Homo sapiens: one gene and its partner. The protein of the gene in region 2 interacts with the protein of the main gene of each other region in a pairwise test. Each region holds a gene or a part of one and is shown on either strand. Other genes may lie near its edges.

Region 1 (7,022 bases), about 79 Mb from region 2:
ACAAGTATTTGAGGGGTTCTCGGGGCCCTGCCAAGTCCCAGGCCCAGACTTGGAGCTTCAAGCCGCCGAGGTGCCCCTACCGCCACCCCTCAGGCCCACTCCCCTAATGCCAGCTTGACTTCCTGGCCCTCCCAGGCCCAGCACACCCAGAAATCCAGCCTGGCTCCTGGGGCCTGCCCTCGATCAGGGGGTATGGGTGGGAGGCTATTTAGATTTTTTTTTTTTTTTTTTTTGAGACGGAGTCTCGCTCTGTCACCAGGCTGGAGTGCAGTGGCGTTATCTGGGCTCACTGCAACCTTTGCCTTCTAGTTCAAGTGATTCTCCTGCCTCAGCCTCCCGAGTAGCTGGGACTACAGGCACGTGCCACCACACCTGGCTAACTTTTGTATTTTTAGTAGAGATGGGGTTTCACCATGTTGGCCAGGATGGTCTTGATCTCTTGACCTCATGATCCGCCCACCTTGGCCTCCCAAAGTGCTGGGATTACAGGCATGAACCACCGTGCCCGGCAAAAAATATTTTTTAAATAAATGAATTATGTGGGGAATTTCCTGCAGGAGACACCCTATCTGGGTGTCCCTAAACAGGGGTGTGGGAGCTCAGGCATGGGGGCCGGGCTTTAAGCACCTTCCCAGACCCCAAGACCCTCTGTCAGCAGCAGCTGTGCCCCAAAGCCCAGGCTCACTGTGTAAATCCCAACCCCAGGAGCCCCAGGCCACACCAGACCCCCTCTGCAGGCCGCTGTGAGCATTCTCCATTGAGAAACATCTGCCCCACTAGACACCGGCCCCTCCCCCTGCAGCCTCCTGCCCCCATTAGCACCTGAATTGCAGCAAATGTGACCCAGAAACACCGCCTGGTGGATGCAGCCAGCGGGTGGAGCGTGGAGAGGGATGGGGTGGCCATGTGAACCCCTCACTCAGCCCCATTCCAAGGCCTGAAGTCCCGTCACCTTCCTCCAGCCTCCCTGGCGGCCCCCACTTTACAGATGGCACAACTGAGACTTGGGAGTGGAGGGCACAGGGCTCCTCCCATGGGGACCCTGGGAGCCACCAGAGGCCCCAGATGCTCCTGCCCCTCTGGGAACAGTCTTTCCCCAGACATTGCACTCCTCAAAGCTGCATTTTCAATTAACTGTGCCGCTGAGGGATGTGGCCTGGGTGCCAGCTGGGTGCCAGGTTTTGAGGGCTGGGCTGAGTCCTGCAGGCAGGGCCCGCTTCCCACCGGACACCTACCTGCCCAGCCCCAGGCAGCGAGGGAACCCTGCGTGCAGATGTGTAACTGCCATGAATGCGGTTTTGCAAGTTTTGCCACATCCAGCCCCTGACACAAACAGGGCTGATGAGGGCTGTGGAGACCAGGAGGGAAGCAGGGAGCTTCCTCCGGGTGGGGCTGCCTTGGGGCACAGGGGGCAGTAAGCTGGCCAACAGAAGCTGACTCATGCCCCCCAACCCCACCATACAGATGTGGAAACTAAGGCCAGAGGGACAGAGCAGCCTCCCACGTCCTGGGGTGAACACCACACAGGATCAGTGGCCTCCGCGACGGCTGGTAGGAGGGAAGTAGGCAAGGAGAGAGGGATGTACTCATCTGGATGGGATGGCCACTGCCTTCCCAGACTGTCCCAAGCTTGGGACATTCTGATCCCCCTGCAGTCCCCAGGAAGCGGAGCCTCAGAGTCCTCTGGCTTCTAGTCCCTCCTGCAGGCCCTGGGATGGCTCCTCATGGAGAAACCAGGTTCCCAGTCCCCGGCTGGGCACAGATGGTACCGGGATGGCTGAGGCCATGACCCTACCCCTGTGAGGGGCACAGCTCAAAGGGCTCTGGCCTCATCCCCTGATACCAACCACCATGGGGTTAATCCTGGGGTCGGTGAATTAGGGAAAGCCAGGTAGCCTCTGGGCAGCACAAGCCAGGAGCACTACTGTCCTATGGGTTAGGAGAGGCCCGGGGGAGTGGGTGCCAGACCGGGGCAGCATCACCTCCTACCCAGCTAGCCCGAAAGCTGGTGAACCGTGTGCACCCTCCCCATTGCACCGGTAAAGGGACAGATGCCCCTGCCAGCCCCAGGAGAGCACCTAGTCGCGCACACGGAGTCCCCAGGCACACCTCTGAAGGGGATACACGCTCATCCCTGTGGTGTAGTGTGGGGCTCCGACACGCCACCCCTACACTCCAGGCCGTGTACACACATCACACCGTGCCGGGCACGGGCGGCATCTGCACACCCGCCACATGTGTACGCGTTGATCACACACCAAACGCACCAGGGGGCTGCGCGTTCACACGCGCGCCAACGTGCCCGCAGGTCCGCCACCTCCCCGGTGCCCGGCCGACGCCGTGGCGCGGTGCGTGCGTAAACACAAATGCACATGGACGTGTGCGCACGCCGCCGACCGCCCACCAGGCACGCGGACCCTCGGACCACTCGCCCGGAGCGGCTCCGCCCTCCGGCCCAGCTCTGCCGAGGCCTGGGGCGTCCTCCTTCCGGCCGCCCGCCCGACTGTCCGTCTGCACCGCGGGGCCGCCCGGCCCTCGGCCGTTACCCGGACAAAAGGGGTGGGGGGGGTCCCCGTCTCGATCCCGGGGGACTCGCGGCCCCGCGGGGGCGGCGTATCCCCGACCGGTGGCCCGGTTCCCACCTCCGCCCGCCGCGAGCCCTTGGGATCCGGACGCCGGGCACCGCCGTCGGGAAAGCGGGTCGGGTCTGCGGCCCGGAGGGGGCGCACAGCCGGCACGCGTCCACGCCGTCCGCCCCCGCCCGGCGGCCACGCGGGACACACTCCGCCCGTGGCCCCGGCCCTCGCCCGGCTCCGGCGCCGCGCACCTCGAACTGCCAGTGGGCCGCCTGCAGCAGTTGCTTCGCCTGGTCGGCCGCGCAGCCCGCCGTCAGCACGAACTGGTTGATCATGACCTGGTGCTTGAGCTCGTCCATGTTCACGGACATGGCGCCGCCGCGCTGCCCGCTCCGGCCTCCCTCCTCCGCCCGCGCCTCCGCCTCACGCGTCCACCATTAGCGAGCCGGCTCCGGCTAATACAAATATTTACTGTGCGGCTCTGACTCACCGCGCCTCGCCTCGCTCCGCCGGCGCCGCGGCATGCTGGGATATGTAGTCCCCACGGTGCGCCGGGCGCCCCGGGGGAGCGGGGCCGGCACCCTAGGGGACGCGAAGCCCGGGAAGGGGCGTGTCTGAGCACCGAGCGCCCGCTGTGCGGATGTCCGGGCCGTAACCCGAGCCGGGCGCGTCCACGTCGTCCTCGTTGCTCTCGGTGGCACCCGTGCCCCTGCTCTGGCACGGATGGGGGTCCGCTGGCGGGGGCCACGTCTGTGCATGGGCGCAAATGCCTGACCACAGGATCTTGGCCAAGGCCTGGGGACCGTGTCTGAACTGTGAGCGCCTACTGTGTGTGGATGCCCGGGCCGTGACCAGGGTTGGGGGAGTCCACGTCGCCCTCGTTGCTCTGGGTGGCACCCGGCCCCTGCTCTGGCACGGATGGAGGTCCGCAGGCGGGGGCCTCAGGTTCGTGCATAGGCGTTTTTGCCAAGGCCCAGGAACGGTGTCTGAAAACTGAGTGCCTAATGTGTGCAGGCGCCTGAGCTGGGACCAGAGCCAGTCACGTCCACGTCGCCCTCGTTGCTCTCGGTGGCACCCACGCCCCTGCTCTGGCGGGAATTAGGAGCCCAGAGGCCGGGGCCACAGATCTGTGCATGGGCGCAAACGCCAGGCCACAGACGTCTTTGCCATGCCCCGGGGACTGTGACTGAACGCTAAGTGCCTACTGTGCGCAGCTGTCCAGACCGTGACCAGAGCCAGGCACGTCCATGTCGCCCTCATTGCTCTCGGTGGCACCCGTGCCCCTGCTCTGGCACGAATTGGGGTCCCAAGGTGGGGCATACAGATCTGTGCATGGGCGCAAACGCCGGGCCACAGGCGTCTTTGCTAAGACCTAGGGACCCTGAACCCCTCTGTGATTGGCATCGCTCTGTGTTAAATAGTAGGCACGCCCTTAAGAGAGGGGTCTCTAGGAATTTTGGCCCAAATCGGCTGGTCTAGGCTGAAAGGCCCGGCACACTGTAGGCGCCGACAAATACTCGTTCAGTGAATGAATGAATGAGCCACTTAAAAGCTCCGCCGCACGTCACCGCCTATAGCTAGCCTCCTAGCTCTCCTCACTCAATCTCTCATCGCCCACTCGTGGCATGGGTCCTTCCTAGCCTGGCTCTGGGCCTGCCCCACTGTAGCCCCATGACCCTCTGGACGGCGCCTGGGACAGGCTGGCGGGGCCAGCAGCCTCTGGTGCTTCGGGGTCCCCCTCCCAGCAGTTCTCCCGCTTTCCCACGCAAAATCTCGTGCTCTTTGCCGGAAATCTCGGCCCTTAGCGGGCGGGCGCCAAGGCCCGGCAGAGCCAGTTCCGGAGCGGCCCCAAACTCCCTTTCCCAGAATGCCTCGGTTTATTTGCATCGTTTGGTCCCGGTGACGTCAGCTGAGTGAGGTCGTGCCTCGACCAATGGACAGCCTCGGGGTGTTAGGACCTGGCCATATAAGGTAAACAAAGCTGGTCGCCCAATGAAGAGGCGGCGGGGGCGGGCGCTGGGCCGGGGAGGCCGGGGGCGGAGCCGGGGGCGGGGCGACCGGGCGGTGTTTACAGACCGGCACATGGCGCTTCCGGTTGACGTTGCTGACAGCTAGTGAGGCTTTAGCCCGCTTCGAGCGCCCGGGGGCGGTAAGGCGCGATCATAGCAGCTCTAGGTGACCTTGGTCCGGCTCCTTGCGCCCCCTGGCCCCAGCCTCCTTCGTTGAGACACTATTTGTTGAGTCTTTCCTCTTTTCCTGGCCCTGACCTAGCGTGGGGCGACAGAAGAGCAATAGCCGGGTGGGGGCTGTGAGAACGGCTGGGGTTGGGAGCGAATTTCGGAAACCCGGAGGACGAGTATAGCCTTGCAAGATGGAAAATGCCCTCCCGGGCTGGCGCGGTGGCCTGTAATCCCACCTACTCGGGGTCCGAGGAGGGAGGATTGCCTAGGCCCAGGACTTTGAGAACACGCCTCTACAGAGATTTACATTTTAAGAAAATTAGCTGAGTTCGGGTCGGGCGCAGTGGCTCACGCCTGTAATCCCAGCACTTTGGGAGGCCGAGGCTGGCGGATCACCTGAGGTCAGGAATTCGAGACCAGCCTGACCAAAACGGCGAAACCCGTTCTCTACTAAAAATACAAACACTAGCCGGGCGTGGTGGCAGTCGCCTGTAATCCCAGCTACTCCAGAAGCTGAGGCAGGAGAATCGCTTGAACCCAGGAGGCGGAGGTTGCAGTGAGCCGCGATCGCGCCACTGCCCTGCAGCCTGGGCCACAGAGCAAGACTCTGTCTCAAAAAAAAAAACCAAAAAACAAAGCAACAACAAAAAAACAGAGAATTAGCTGGGTTCCATGGCTCACACCTGTAAGTAATCTCAACACTTTAGGAGGCCGAGATGGGCGCGGATCACTAGAGTCCAGGAGTTTGCGACCAGTCTGGGCAACATAGTGAGACCCTCGTCTCTACAAAAAATAAAAAATAAAAAAAATTGGCCGGGCGCCGTGGCTCACGCTTGTAATCCTAGCGCTTTGGGAGGCCGAGGCGGGCAGATCCCTTGAGGTTAGGAGTTCCAGACCAGCCTGGTCAAACCGTCTCTACTAAAAATACAAAAATTAGCCGGACATGGTGGCACACGCCTGTAGTGCCAGCTACTGGGGAAGCTGAGGCAGGAGAATTGCTTGAACTCAGGAGGCGGAGGCTGCAGTGAGCTGAGATCGCGCCATTGCATTCCAGCCTAGACGACAGAGCAAGACTGTCTCAAGAAAAAAAAAAAAATTCTGGAGTCCCAGCTACAGATTGAGGTAGGAGGATTGCTTGAGCCTGGGAAGTCAGAGGCTGCAGTGAGCCGTGATTGTGCCTGGGGAACAGCGCAAGATCCTGTCTCCAAAAAATAAAAAATGCCCTAGGGAGGCCGGCACTGGCCCTGGGGGTGAGTTAGGGGATACTGAAATGTGTAAACAGATCTGATCCCTTGGACACGTTGGGATCACTGTGGCTGTGGCTGTGCTGGGATCAGATGGTGGTGGAGAGCTCCGGTCTGAACTAGGCGACGTTCTTGATGTGTCTGGTTCCAGGGGAGTCTGCCCTGCCTTCGGAATTGGATGGAATGGAGGGAATTGCCTCAAGCTGCGGCTCCTACCCGGGCCCCTCAAGCCTGACCAAGGACTCTCCCATTGGGTGGTGGGAGGAGGACAGTAGGGGAACTAGTGGACTGGACCTGAAATGTCCTGGGGTGGGAGGGTAGGGTGGTGGGGAAGGCTTGGGGCACTGAGATAGCGGAGAGGGCTGGGGAGGGAAGGGAGTCAGGGTGCAGTGGAGTTGGTCTCTGAGGGCTGGGGCTGGGAGCCTGGCCTATAGGCAAGGGGCGGACACTGAGTCTTGGCTTTTCCCAGGCAGGCACTTAGCCTCGGCAGAAGCCATCTGACCACGGGAAATACAGTTTAAAATTCTTTCCTGCTGTTTGCGGATCACTTAGGGGCCACAGTATTTTGTAAACCCTGATGGTTCCAAGAGATGTTTGCTCTTGCTAAGAGTTGCTCCTTAACCTTTGCAAAGCTCATATGCATGAATTAATATGGGCAAAGTGCTCCACAGGGTAGGCCCACAGTAAAAACCAGCTCTGAATATGATTCCCGCTATAATAATTACCACTAGGACGACAACACAGTGTGGTAGAAGGTGGGCAGGTTCGGGAGCTAGACAGACCTGGGTGTCAGGCTTGACTCCGCTGCTTAATGACTTAATGCTTAATGTTGAGCGAGTTACCAGAGCTCTGGGCTTCACTTTCTCACTGGCGGGGCTGAGTTCTGGCCTCACTGCTGTGGAAGATTAATGCCTGTAAAATGCAGAGTGCAGGGCCTGGTGCTATTTGCACGGTTCTAGTGCTCTCACCTGTTTGCCTCCATCTGGACCACTCTGGGAAGCCCTAGCCCTATTTTACAGATA
Region 2 (7,015 bases):
CGTGGGTTCTTTCTACTTTTTGCTATTTTAAGTTACATATTAGGAAAATGTGTGCACACGTTTTTGTGTGAATGTATGTTCACAATTCTCTTGGGTACCTAGGAGTGGAATTACTGGGCTCTATGGCAATTCTCTTTGACTTTTTGAGGCACTGCCAAACTGATTTCCACAGTGGCTGTATCATTTAGCATTCTCATCAGCGGAGTATGAGGGTTCTAATTTCTGTACATTCTCACCAGTTATTCTGTTGTTATTATTATTGCCATCCTAGTGGATGTGAAGTGGTAACTCGTGGCTTTGATTACATTTCCCTAACGACTAATGACGTTGAGCATCTTTTTATGCACTTACTGGCCATATATATTTACACATACACATACATACATATACACACACACACATATATATATACATACACATATATATATATACACACACATATATATATTTTTTGGAGAGATGTCTATTCTAATCTTCTGTCCATTTTTAATTAGGTTGTTTGTCTTTTTATTGTTTAGTGGTAGGAATTCTTTTTTTTTTTTTTTTTTTAAACAGAGTCTCGCTCTGTTGCCCAGGCTGGAGTGCAGTGGCGCGATCTGGCTCACTGCAAGCTCACCCTCCCGGGTTCACGCAATTCTCCTTCCTCAGCCTCCTGAGTAGCTGGGACTACAGGCGCCGGCCACCACCCCCGGCTAATTTTTTGTATTTTTAGTGGAGACGGGGTTTCACCGTGTTAGCCAGGATGGTCGCGATCTCCTGACTTTGTGATCCGCCTGCCTTGGCCTCCCAAAGTGCTGGGATTACAGGCGTGAGCCACCATGCCCGGCCACAATTCTTTATATAATCCACATAAAGACCCTTATCAGATATATGATTTTCAAATATTTCTCCCACTCTGTGGCTCATCTTTTTACTTTATTGATGGTGTCCTTCAATATATAAAAGTTTCTCATTTTGATGAGGTCCAAGTTATCTATTATTCTTTTGTTGTTTGCACTTGTGACGTCATATTTAAGAAATAATTGCTATTCCAAAGTCCTGAAGATTTACACCTATTTTCCCTTCTAAGGATTTTATAGTCTTAGCTCTTACATTTAGGTCTTGGATCCATTTTGGGTTAATTCTTCTATTGGCTGTGAGGTAGGTAGGGGTCCATGTTTGTTGTTTTGCTTGTAGATGTCTAGTTGTCCCCGTCCCATTTGTTGAAAAGACTCACTTTTACCCACTGAATGGTCTTAGAACCCTTGTCAAAAATGAATTGACCAGGCTGGTCACGGTGGCTCACGCCTGTAATCCCAGCACTTTGGGAGGCCAAGGTGGGCGGATCACGAGGTCAGGAGTTCGAGACCAGCCTCGCCAACTTAGTGAAACCCTGTCTCTACTAAAAATACAAAAATTAGCTGGGTGTGGTGGCACACACCTGTAGTCCCAGCTACTCAGGAGGCTGAGGCAGGAGAATTACTTGAACCTGGGAGGCAGAGGTTGCAGTGAGCCGAGACCATGCCACTGCACTCCAGCCTGAGTGACAGAGTGAGACTCTGTCTCAAAAAAAAAAAAAAAAATCAATTGACCATAGATGGGTTTATTTCTGAATGTTCAATTTTATTCTATTGATTTTTGTGTTTTATCTTTCTGCCAATACCACATTATTTTGATTACTGTGGCTTTGTAGTAAGTTTGTTCTTTTTAAAGATTGTTTTGGCCACTCAGGGCCCCTAGCATTTCTATATAAATATTAGAATATGTTTTTCTATTTCTGCAAAAAAAAAAAGGGCAGTGAAATTTTAATAGGGATTGTATTAGATCTGTAGGTTAATTTTGGGAGTATTGCCATTGTATTAGTCTATTCTCACGCTGCTATAAAGAAATACACGAGACTGGGTAATTCATAAAGAAAAGAGGTTTAATCGGATTATGGTTCCACAAGCTGTACAGAAGACGTAGTGGCTTCTGCTTCTGGAGAGGCCTCAGGAGGCTTCCATTCATGGCGGAAGGCAAAGGGGGAGTGAGGAGCTTCACATAGCCAGAGCAGGAGAGAGGGGGTGGTGATGCACACTTCTAAACAACCGGATCTCCTGAGAACTCACTGTAGGGTACCAAGCGGGGATGGTGCTAACCCATTTATGAGAACTCTGCCCCTATGATCCAATCATTTCTTACCAGGCGCCACCTCCAACACTGAGGATTACAACTAGACATGAGATTTGGTTGGACACAGATCCAAACCATATGAGCTATATTAACAATATTACATCTTCCAATCCATGAACCATGCATGGACCATTCCATTTGTTTAGGTCTTCTTTAATTTCCTTCAATACTGTTCTGTGGTTTTCCATCTACCAGTCTCACACTTCCTTGGTTAAACATGTTTCTTTTATCCCTTCAGATGTTGTTGTAAATAGAATTGTTTCTTTAATTTCATTTTTGGATTGGGGCAGTCTTTTGAAATAAGGACATGAGTGGGAAAAAGCAGAGGATGGCTGTTGACGCCTAGAGAAAAAAGTATAAACACAGAGAAAAAAAAAACAGAAGCCAGAAATTACATAAAAAGGAAGGCACCGGGAAAGATGAGAAAGAACAGGGTTGTGGGAGTACTACACTTAGCAAATGCTTAAGCAAAGTCAAGCTTTCAAGACAAGATTCCTAAAGCAAGGCAGGAGTATCCTAGGACAGACAAAAGCTCACTCGACAAGGCAAAGAGACAAACACCAGAGTTTGGACCCCACCAACTCCCTTAGCCAGCTGGCAATATGGTTTCACCACTTCTTAGAAAAGAGGAATGGAGAGGTGTCCTCAAAAGCCACCACTAGGCTTTCAGAATGTTTTGTGTGTCTGTGTCTTGGCAGAATGAGCCAAACGTACTTTCTTCGTGCCCCATAAGATGAGACACACCCAGCAAAGGCTGTCCTCATACAGAACTACCTCCAGGTGTCTTTTATACTGCAAGACCTGCACCAAAGGGTTCTACCTATAGAAATCCTAGCACCTAGACATAGTCAACCAAGTACATGGCTCCCTCACCCTCCAACCAAAGATGCCATATTTCCATCAGAGTGGAACAAAATCCCACTGTGTTCCTAATGCCTCCTGCAATTTTGCATGTGGGAGACATGGCTGGTATGTGACATTCTCTTCTACAGATTGTAATGGATTGGGGAAGGAGGGGGAACTAGAGTTCAGGCCTATCTTTCTAGAGGACAAAATAAATATGCCTTGATAACTGCAATTATCTGAAAACTATTTCAAAGAAAACTCTTTGTCTCATTCTGGCATTTGCTCAAGGGTATGGCTTTCCATCAGTCTCTCTGTCTCCATGTCTCTTTTACATACATATGTATGTGTATATGCGTGCGTATGTGTACATACATCCATACATATAGACATATTCTCTCTCTCTCCACACACACTCACACACCCCTCCAACCTCTGTGGCTCTGAGCGTCATGTGTGTAAGACACTGACGCGAATGGTGAGTGCCTAGGCAGGGGTCAAACAAAGGCTACCTACCATGCCAGAGGATTGCCACAAACACCTCTTAAGCAAGCATATTCCTTGGCTCCTCCCAGACACACTGAATCTGAATCTCTAGGATTCTGATTTCGGAGCCCAGGAATCCTCCGGTGCAGGAGTTCCCAGGTGACTCTGATGCACCGGGAGGCTGGAGGCGCTCGGATCTAGAGAGGAGGCGGCACTTGTGCAGTGCAGTCGGGAAAGAGAGGAGGGGCTGGGCCGGTGCCTTTAGGCGGTCAGGTGTTAGGACCGGAGTACAAGCCGCCAGCCGCGCGGGAGCAGGCCCCGAGGCAGCCCAGCCGCGGGGCAGTAACCTTTAGCCACACTTGGCCTCCGGCCGCCGCCAGAGCCGCTCCGCCCCCGCCGCCTCGCCCCCACCGCCCCGCCCTCCTATTGGCCGCGTCCCCAGCCGGGCTCGCGGCCTCGGCCAATGGGGCCGGCGCGCGCCGGAAGCCGGAAGCGCGGCAGCGGCGGCGGCGCTCCCCCTCGGCAGCTGTTGTGGGGCACCATGCGAGGCTTCGGGCCAGGCTTGACGGCCAGGCGTCTCCTCCCGCTGCGGTTGCCCCCGCGGCCGCCCGGGCCCCGGCTGGCGAGCGGGCAGGCGGCCGGCGCCCTGGAGCGGGCCATGGACGAGCTGCTGCGCCGCGCGGTGCCGCCGACGCCGGCCTACGAGCTGCGCGAGAAGACACCGGCGCCCGCCGAGGGTCAGTGCGCGGACTTCGTGAGCTTCTACGGTGGGCTGGCCGAGACGGCCCAGCGGGCCGAACTGCTGGGCCGCCTGGCGCGGGGCTTCGGCGTGGACCACGGCCAGGTGGCGGAGCAGAGCGCCGGCGTGCTCCATCTGCGCCAGCAGCAGCGGGAGGCGGCGGTGCTGCTGCAGGCCGAGGACCGGCTGCGCTACGCGCTGGTGCCGCGCTATCGCGGCCTCTTCCACCACATCAGCAAGCTGGACGGCGGCGTGCGCTTCCTGGTGCAGCTGCGGGCCGACCTGCTGGAGGCGCAGGCCCTCAAGCTGGTGGAGGGGCCGGACGTCCGGGTAAGGGGCCGCCGTCGATCCCCCGGCAGCGCGGACTGGCCGCCCTCCTCGAGTAGTCCTCACTTGCCCCCTCCAAGTCCCACACACCCCGCCTTCCCTGCCCGATAGCACGCTCACTTCGCCCGCAGTTACCGCCTGCCAACTGTGTCCCCTTCCCACGCTGTCTGAGTCCTGGCCTCGTCAGAGCACACCCCCGCCTTCCTCCAGTCTGTCCTTGAAGTCCTCACTTGTATAGTGTTTACTAAATACTCAGCACTTGGTGGTCTTTAAGGTAGCTGTCACCTCTCGTACCTGATTAGTGTGTGCTCTACAGTCTTTTGAAATTATTGTAGCTGAGAAGTGTTTCATCTATATGGTATACCTGAACTAGAGCATCAGGCAGCCTTCTGAGACCCTGGATGGTGTTTCAGAAGTTCACTGGGCACCCGCTATGTGTGAGACATTGTCCTGAGAAGTCCTGTGAAATGCACAAAGGTAAATAGGACTCAAGGTCACCACCACCACCCAGGAGTCTCCATGGCTTCTGGCCTTGTCTGTGCTCCATGACTTTTGGGAGGGCATTTAACTCCCTGCGTTCAGTACTTAATGTGATGATTCTGAGTTGACTTGAGGTAATCAGGCATTAGCACAGTTCATTCATGTTAAATGCAGACACATACTTTGAGATTTAAATGATTATGACCCGAAAGAAGGCCTAGAGCAACATATACTCTTCTTTTATACTGTTAGTATTAAATACGGCGAAAAACTAACCTGCCCTTTTTTTATTTTTATTTTTGTTGCCCAGACTGGAGTACAGTGGTGTTATCACGGCTCACTGCAGCCTCGACTTCCCCAGGCTCAAGCAATCTTCCCACCTCAGCCTCCTGAGTAGCTGGGACTACAGGTGCAGGCCACCATGCCCGGCTAATTTTTTTTTTTTTTTTTTTTTTTTGTAGAGAGGGCGTTTCACCATGTGGCCCAGGCTTAACCTGCCCTTTTAATGAACGAAAAATGACGTAAATGTTTCAGGAAGTTTTGGACATTCAGAAGTTTGTTATGTGCAGTTGGTGTTAAAAAAAAATTGAACACTTGAATGATTATGACTTGACCCATTTAAGAACTCTAATACTGGTTTAATAGTTTACATTCCTTCAGTCTTACGTGGGTGATAACACGTATCCCTTTTACAGTAAAGGAGAACATGCTGAGGTTGTGTTACTTGTCCTGAAATTCAGAGCGAAAAGCTCTTGCTGATCACCCACCCTAATCCAGGGTTATTTGCACTACGCTTTATATCACTGTCTTACCGTTAATCAGATGTTTATTAGAAACTTTCTTTTTTGGCTACTTAGATGCATAAAATTGGGCATAATTAAGTATGGGATTAATGTCAAGAGTGACAACAGTGGCCATGATTTGATTCCCCGTGATAGCTGGTTAATTTACAGCGCTAAGTGTTACTGAGGGCCAGGCATCTTTGGCCGTAAGATTCTCAGACAGAAAGCCCACAGTTGCTAATTGCATGACACAGAATCAGTCATGAATTCTTACTGTGTTGAATTATCATGTTCTGGGCTCAAGCCTAGTCTGAATAGCTGAGTTTTTCTGATCCACACTTGGACATAGTACTTGCAGTATATCATCCCCCCATGTAAATGATCAGCTCCTCGAAAACTGGGAAACTTGTCTTTAAATTTCTTGCATAGCAGAATGATGAATGAATCATTGCAATAGATTCCTGGGTGTCCTGGCATAAGACACACTTGACACACTAATCATTCAGCATTTGTGTGGAGGTGAGTCTGCCCCACACTCAGTCATAGATTTTTGAGCCTGAGAGAAAGCCATGAAGGACTTGAAAGGTTTCTGCCCAGCTGAGAGGGTCCTCATATCAGACATTTGGACAGCTTTGTCCCTCATTGATTTCTCACATCCGGTCCAATTCTGAATTCTCTGGTTCTGTGAGATGCTGTGGAATACATCCTTTTGTTCTTCCCCACTCAAGAAAACTCTTGGTTATCGCGTCATTGGGAAGGAACACGTTGCATGGCAACTGAAGACACTCACATCCAGACTTGACTGTTGAGAGAAAGGAGCTGGCCCCTGGGAAATACAGAGGCTGCTGAGTCCTTAGACATTCACAAGTTTCCTTGCTTTTTGACCAAGGCTATTTACAGAAGGGAAAAAAACATTGCATACTGTAATGCTAGGCCAAAAGTCCTGTGGACCAGAGGTGTTTATCAAACAGAATGAATAACGACAGTCTGATCTTTGCCTCTGCATATGGTTTGGACATAATGGCTTCAGGAGCCTTTCTGTGATTGCTTTATTGTGCCCCTTCCATTTCTTTACCTAGAAACCCCAGCCTTATATTCAGTGCATGTAACTGTTAGTAGCTGAACCTATTAATTCCCTTCCCCTTCCCTTGTTCTACGTAGTTGTTTTCTCATATATACACATATATATGTATGTGTATATGTGTGT

The links. Proteins that work in one complex are often made in the same cells at the same time.
Region 1: the proteins of MLYCD (region 2) and UBALD1 interact in binary tests that used the Homo sapiens proteins (3 or more experiments, as listed by UniProt).

Annotation. Positions count from the first base shown.
Region 1 is NC_000016.10:4,611,851-4,618,872, forward strand, and holds the start of UBALD1 (UBA-like domain-containing protein 1), read right to left. Parts: upstream 3,039-7,022; 5' UTR 2,948-3,038; coding exon 2,828-2,947; coding exon of another isoform or gene 2,643-2,827; intron 1-2,642.
Region 2 is NC_000016.10:83,895,124-83,902,138, forward strand, and holds the start of MLYCD (malonyl-CoA decarboxylase, mitochondrial), read left to right. Parts: upstream 1-3,991; 5' UTR 3,992-4,021; coding exon 4,022-4,549; intron 4,550-7,015. UniProt on the Homo sapiens protein: Catalyzes the conversion of malonyl-CoA to acetyl-CoA.